2 linked regions of the Homo sapiens genome follow. The protein of the gene in region 1 purifies or fractionates together with the protein of each later gene. This does not show direct contact. Each region holds a gene or a part of one and is shown in the gene's direction. Other genes may lie near its edges.

Region 1 (3,752 bases):
TTGTATTTTGTAGAGATGGCGTTTCTCTGTGTTTCCCAGGCTGGTGTGGAACTCCAGAGCTCAAGTGATCCACCTGCCTGGGCCTCCCAAAGTGTTGGGTTTACAGGTGTGAGCCACTGCCCAGCCTGTCTTGTGATTTTAAAAAATGCCTCTGGCAGTGGGGCTCAGTGGCTCACACCTATAATCCCAGCACTTTGGAGGCCAAGGCAGGTGGATTGCTTCAGCCAAGGAGTTCGAGACCAGCCTGGGCAACATGGTGAAACTCCATCTTTATAAAAATTACAAAAATTAATCAGTCATGATGGCATGTGCCTGTAGTCCCAGTTGCTTGGGAGGCTGAAGTGGGAGGATGATCTCTTGAGCCCAGAAGGTCAAGGCTGCAGTGAGCCATTACTGTGCCACTGTACTCCAGTCTGGACAACAGAGTAAGACTCTGTCTCAAAAAAAAAAAAAAGAAAGAAAGAAAGAAAAGGCCAGGCGTGGTGGCTCATGCCTATAATCCCAGCACTTTGGGAGGCCAGGGCAGGCGGATCACCTGAGGTCAGGAATTCGAGACCAGCCTGACCAACATGGTGCAACGCCATCTCTACCAAAAAAAAAAAAAAAAATTAGTCGGGCATTGTGGCAGGCGCCTCTAGTCCCAGCTACTCAGGAAGCTGAGGCAGGAGAATTGCTTGAGCCTGGGAGGCAGAGGTTGCAGTGAGCCGAGATCGTACCACTGCACTCCAGCCTGGGTGACAGAGTGAGACTCCATCTCAAAAAAGAAAGAAAAGAAAAGAAGAAAAAAAAATGCCTCTGGGTAGCAGAAGAGTTGTACCACATTGAACTTCATAATCCTGACTTCAACTATTTCTATTAGAAGAAATACAATTTCATGTGATTTTCAGCAAAAATATTAACTTTTAATTTGTGTTTTGGTGAAAGACAATGTCACTGTCATGTAATATGTAGATTAATATTTGCAAAAAATTCGATGATACTTTTCTAAACTAAATACTTAATATGCAAACTGTCATGTAGAATTTTTCTATGTAATTATAAAAGTTAAACTTTGTTTTTTTAGGTTGAAAAGCTGTTAGAAGGTTACCTCAAAGAAATTGGAATTAATGAAGATCAATTTCAAGAAGCATGCACTTCTCCTCTTGCAAAGACCCATACATCACAGGTTTTTGCTTTGTGTTATTCTGCTAACATACAGTTTTAACAAATGCCCAGGGTTAAACACTCACTTAAATTTGAATGTTTGATTGACAAAGTGTAATATTTTAGACATTGTGAGAGGTAGAAAGATAATTCATCACATATGAGTTCTTTTTGAGAGCAACCCTGAAAAATGATAATTTGAGGCATTAATGAACTGATGCAACTCAAAGTGACCTTTCTAAACTCAGAACTAGAATAAGATCACAGGGTTTATACAAACTACTGTTTTATTTACATAGATCTCCAATAATTCTGCAGTTGCTCCTTTTATAATTTTAGCAGATCCACAGTCAGTAGTTCCTGCTGCTGCTTCCTTCTCTTGGAACTACTTGTATTATCTTACTGGTTGTGTAGTGCTAGGCTGAAGTAGTAATACATATGTTATAAACTAATGTTTGTTTTTGTTGTTTTTTTGATATGGGGTCTCACTCTATTGCTCAGGCTGGAGTTTAGTGTGATTGCAGCTCATTATAGGCTCAACATCCCTGGGCTCAGGTAATCCTCCCATCTCAACTTTCCTGGTAGCTGGGACTACAGGTGCCGCACCAGCACACATGGCTAATTTTTTTTTTTTTTTTTTTTTTTTTGTAGAGACAGGGTCTTGCTGTGTTGTCCAGGCTGGTCTTGAATGCTGGGCTCAAGGGATTTGCCCATCTTGGCCTCCCAAAGTGCTAGGATTACAGGCATGAGCCACCACGCCCAGCCTGTAAACTAATGTTTATTGAGGGCTTGTGCTAATTGATATTTTGGGCACTTGACATGTTTTATCTCATTTAATCTTCCTGACACCTCTTAAGAAACTGCTACTATATAACTTCCATTTAGAAATGAGGAAACCAGGCCCGGAGTAGTGGCTCACGCCTGTAATCCCAGTACTTTGGGAGGCCGAGGCGGGCAGATCACCTGAGGTCGGGAGTTCGAGACCAGCCTGACCAACATGGAGAAACCCCGTCTCTACTAAACATACAAAATTAGCTGGGCATGGTGGCACATGCCTGTAATCCCAGCTACTTGGGAGGCTGAGGCAGGAGAATCCCTTGAACCCGGGAGGCGGAGGTTGTGGTGAGCCAAGATCGCGCCATTGCACTCCAGCCTGGGCAACAAGAACAAAACTGTCTAAAAAAAAAAAACAAAAAAGAAATGAGGAAACCAAAGCACAGATATATTAAGCAAATAGTCCAAAGTCCACAGCTAAATAAGTAGTAGAGCCAGTATCCCCAGCCCAGGCAAGCCAACTGAGTGCCCTTGCTCAGAGGGTGAGGATTGGGATATGTTGCTACTACCCAAGTAGCCTTTTGCTCAAAAACTGAAGGCCAGGAAGTGGCTCATGCCTATAATCCCAGCACTTTGGGAGACCAAGACAGGAGGATTGCTTGAAGCCAGGGGTTCGAAACCAGCCTGGACAACATAGTGAGACCCCATCTTTAAAAAAAATATAAAAGTTAGCTTGTTGTAGGTTGTGGTGGTGTTCTCCCCAGAGTACCTACTCAGGATGCTGAAGTAGGAGCATCACTTGAGCCTAGGAGGTTGAAGCTGCAGTAAGACAAGATCATGCCACTGTACTCCAGCCTGGGCAACAGATTAGGACCCAACCCCAAAAAACAAAACATTGGCTTTGGCATCTCATCTTCTACTAAATAAACTGTAATTTCTTAGCAAGATATGGTAAGAATTGTTTAAGATGAGACTCCAGATTGTATTTTTAGCCATGATCCCTTGCTATAGTTCTCCAATACATTATGTTCTACTGCCATTCCAGGTAACTTGCTCTCTTTTTTTTTTCTTTTGAGATAGAGTTTCGCTCTTGTTGCTCAGGCTGGAGTGCAATGGCACAATCTCGGCTCACTGCAACCTCCGTCTCCTAGGTTCAAGTGATTCTCCTGCCTCAGCCTCCCAAGTAGCTGGGATTACAGGCTCCCACCACCATGCCCGGCTAAGTTTTTGTATTTTTAGTAGAGGCAGGGTTTCACTATGTTGGCCAAGCTGGAACACCTGACCTCAGGCGATCCACCCGCCTCGGCCTCCCAAAGTGCTGGGATTACAGGCGTGAGCCACCACGCCCTGCTGCCCCTTGCTCTTATAAGCATCTGTACACCTACCTTTGCTCATGCTGTCCCTTAACCTGGAATGTATGGTCCCCTCCCCAGACCACTCCATCATTCCTTTCATAATGCGGAGAAATCCTCATTATCAGGGCCTGGTTGAAATGCTACTTGTTATAGCAGCTTTGCTGCTTATTCTAAAGTCAGACCAGAATTCAATCTACTTAACTAGGCCAATTGTAAATTGATATTTTTGTTACTCTGCCTTGAATTATAGTTTCCTACAAGTCTATTTGCCCTACTAAATTGTAAGTCCTTTGAGCTGTGTTTAGTATATTTGCATTCCCTGCTGGTAGAACAGAGATGAAAACTTAGTTGCTAGTACATAGTTCTCAATAAATGTTTATTAATTTAAATTGTCTTGTTATGATGGCCTAGAAGAGGTTGCCTTGACTACTTTTTAATCCAGCACTTCCTCTTTTGCACAACTTTTCATTTGATGATCAC
Region 2 (3,752 bases), on another chromosome or scaffold:
ACCCTTCAGCAGAGAACCCCGCGGTGTGAAACTTGGTCGGTGTTCGGGACCAATCTTAGGGCTTACTCTAGTCCCACAAGTCATTGTTGGGAGCTCAGCATAATCTCTACAGACAGACACCCCTCACTCCTTAGCTAGACAGAGCAGGACCACTGGAGTCAGGTCTGGTGACAGTAAAATCCCACAAAAACAAAATGCTTCTAGACATGGCCAACACCCCTTTATTTCAAACAAAGTTGCAACGTGGCAGAGCATCAGAAGCATCCCTTTGGGTTTTCGTAGGAATCTGGTCTGTGTGCATGAGGCCCTTGTTTGGGCCTCCCCCACACCACATGTCTGTGTCTGGCCCCGCACCGGACCAGTACCCATAATGCTGCACACCACCTCTACTCTGAGAGTCTGAACTCACTGCAGACCTAACTGAATGTTGCAGCATTTACTTTTTTATTATTACTACACTGTTGAAAGTGATGCACATGCATCCTTCAAGAAGTCAAATAGTGCTGCAAGGTTAACATCAAAACACCACCATACCCCTCCTACTCTCCTTCACCCTTGCAGTAACCTCTGTGAATTCTTTCAGCAGTTTTTTCTGTTCACATTTATGTTTCCACATAATTCGCCTGTGCTGCTCTTTATTGAATTCCCAGTTTTTGACATTATCTACTGGCATGACTATAGAAACTAGAATTTAGCTCACGCACTGCCCCTACCTCTACCCCCACCAAGCTTAGGCATACTTTTCCTTCTCCCATTCTCCCAGTACAGTTCATCACAGTTTTGGTTAAATTCAGAGTTTACGTCATGACGTGTAAATACGGCTGACAGTTAAGCCACAGAGTGTACAGTGATTATTTTCTTTCTTCTATAACTTTAAGTTTGCCAGAGTTAGGGATTGCCTCATTGTTTTGTTCACTTGGTTTTCTAAATATATGTTCCTACTTCAGCCCCACGTTCTCAGCGGTCTCATAGTGGTGTGTTCAGACACATCAGAGGTTCTGTTTCATCTTTGTCTTGGAGACATGCCCCTGGGTCTCGTTTCTGTTAGTCTAAGGTTAGACCTCCAGGACTGACCTCCTAATTCTTTCCTCTTAGTGTCTCTGGCTTTATCCTTTTGTTCTACTTTCTCAGAAGTTTTATTTTTCACCTTTTCAACCCTTCTATCAAAATTTTCATTTCTGCTTCGTCTTTCTAACTTCAGGAGCCTTTTCTTGCTGTCCGAATGCCCTGCTTTCCACAGCGTGCTCATCTTGTTTCCTAGGAGGCCGTATCTGCTCTCAACTGTCTGATGATTCTGTTTGTTTTCTTTCTTCTCCCTTCATTATCTGACTCCTCCTCTTTTCCTGTCTTTGTTTTGGTTTTGTTCTCATGTTAAAGAGGCTTTTCACATGTAATCTGATGATGCTTGGCTGTCTGTTGAAGGAATGAGAGACTCTGAAAGCTGTTTGTGCATGGAAGGTCCTTGTTGTCCACTGGGCTGCATTGTGGGTGATAAGGCAGACTTTTTCAGCGGGACCCCCAACTGTCAGAATCTGTAAGCCATTTTGGGGGAAGCAGGTGGTGTTCCTGAAGAGGAATCCTCTACTCTCCTCCTGCCTGACGGGTCTAGGCCTGGCCGGCTGCCTTTGGGGATCTGGAAGGGGAAGGAGCTGGGGTTGCTCATCACTTAGTGTGATGTTCACTTGTCCCCCCGTTTTCAGAATCGCAGCTCAGCCCTGTCCTCTACCGTGCAAACCACTGCAGGAAGATGGCCCTTTCTTCTGCCTGCATGGGGACGGAGATGGATTTGGGGATCTTTCCAGTGCTTCCGCCCACTGGTTTCAGCTTTCCCCCTCTCCTTGGTTAACGCTCACCTGTGACCTTTCTACCCTCAAATTTTTGACTTTTTTTACTGGTCTGCTGACCTCACTTCTCCCATTCTTTTTCCCCTTATGGGTTTATGCTTTTTTTTTTAATTCCTCTGCAGTCATGGTAGTGGGGTTTTAGGAGCTTTTGATTAAAACACGTTTCTGCTGCCACGTCAAGGGTTTATTTTTGAGTGGCTTCCTGGGCTGTGGAAAATGTGTCATCATTGTTAGTACTTACTCAGCATCCTGGCCTATCATGGTCATAGCCAAAGAGCAGACTTACTGGGAAATTCAACTCCCTGTCTTCCCCCATCTAGTTCACTGGTGGTGAGAATCCTTCTCTCTTCCCAGCCATGACTGCCCCATCTCCCCTCGCCAGAGCCTGTCCAGCCGGTCAACTTTAAAAATGCAGTGCTAGGCAGGCCTCCTAGGCTGAAAGCATGTTTTGTTCCAGCAGAACAAAGATACTTATGAGCCTTTCTGCAAGGTCCCTGTGATCACCTCATCCAAGGAAGAACAAAAACTTATAGCGACTTCAAATAAGGTATGTTGGAGGCACCCTTGTGGAATTTCTTTTGCTACCAGAAATGATGGAGGTTCTTCTGAATAACTTTTGAAATAAAAACATGTATAATTGCCTGAGTGAGGCCTGATAATGGGTTCACAGTGGGAAGCTACAGGTCATCTTTTGTGCCCCTGCTATTGGGTCATGTGGTCCCCCTCTCCAGCCAGCAAGCTATGCTTGTCTGCCTCTTCTGATGCAGGGCAGGGCCCCAGCCCTATGGGAAGCTAGTAGTTCATTGCATCTGCCTGCCAAGTAACTCTCTTCTTCTTCTTTTAAAACAACCCACAGCCAGCCGTGAAGTTGCTCTACAACAGAAGTAACAACAAATACTCATATACCAGGTAAGGCGTCAGCCGGGAAAGACAGCTCCATTTACTAGGAAAACCTCCACTCACACCAGCCAGGCCCAGCTCTTCTTCGTACCTTCAGATGAGGATGACCCCTCTGTACCTCTCTGCCTGGATAGATAAGTAGACAGATGGATACAGGGGTATAACTCTGAGCTATAATTCACACATATCATAAAAGTCATCTTTCTAGAGTGTACAGTTATTATTATATTCACAATATGTGGTTTTTATATATTCACAAGTTGTGAGGCCATAACGACTATCTAATTTTAGAACTTTTTCACTGCCTGAAAAGAAACCCTCTATTCGTTAGCAGTCACTCCCCATTTTCCCTCAACCATTGCTTCCCCAACCCCACAGCCCTAGGTAACCACTAATCTGTTTTCTGTCTTGATGAATTTGCCTGTTCTGGACATTTTTATGTGAATGGAATTGCATAATATATGGCCTTTTGTGACCAGATTCCTTCATTCAGCATAATGAGATTACCTAAGAGGTTTTCAAGGTTTATCCATGTTGTAGCATGAATCAATACTTCATTCCTTTTTATGGCAGAATAATATTCCACAGTGTAGACCACATTTTCTTTACCCATTCATCAGTTGATGGACATTTGGGTTGTTTGCACTTTTTGGCTATTGTGTGTAATGCTGTTATGAACATTCATGCAAAGTCTCTATGTGGACTTACGTTTTCATTTCTCTGGGAACAGAATTGCTGGGTCATGTGGTAATTCTATGTTTAATCATTCGAGGACCTGCCAAACTGTTTTCTAAAGTGGCTGCACCATTTTACATTCCCACCAGCAATATATGCAGGTTTCTAGAATGCCATTTGGCCCTTGAAAACATGTGGCTCTAACTCAGGAACTTGAGGGATGCAGGGAGGATTTAATCAGGTTACTCAAGATCTTTAAAAAGACCTAGGATATAGAGTCTCCCTTGGGCAGTGCCATTCTGCTCCTCTTGGGGCTCGGTGAGGTGCTCTCCT

The links. The genes of interacting proteins can lie anywhere in the genome.
Region 2: the proteins of CFAP36 (region 1) and KCTD10 purify together in Homo sapiens (affinity purification with mass spectrometry; 2 studies listed by BioGRID and IntAct, with this or other methods). This does not show direct contact.

What each region holds. Positions count from the first base shown.
Region 1 is NC_000002.12:55,522,658-55,526,409, forward strand, and holds part of CFAP36 (cilia- and flagella-associated protein 36), read left to right. Parts: intron 1-1,063; coding exon 1,064-1,165; intron 1,166-3,752. UniProt on the Homo sapiens protein: May act as an effector for ARL3.
Region 2 is NC_000012.12:109,456,631-109,460,382, reverse strand, and holds part of KCTD10 (BTB/POZ domain-containing adapter for CUL3-mediated RhoA degradation protein 3), read left to right. Parts: intron 1-2,301; coding exon of another isoform or gene 2,302-2,304; coding exon 2,305-2,391; intron 2,392-2,700; coding exon 2,701-2,753; intron 2,754-3,752. UniProt on the Homo sapiens protein: Substrate-specific adapter of a BCR (BTB-CUL3-RBX1) E3 ubiquitin-protein ligase complex. The BCR(BACURD3) E3 ubiquitin ligase complex mediates the ubiquitination of target proteins, leading to their degradation by the proteasome.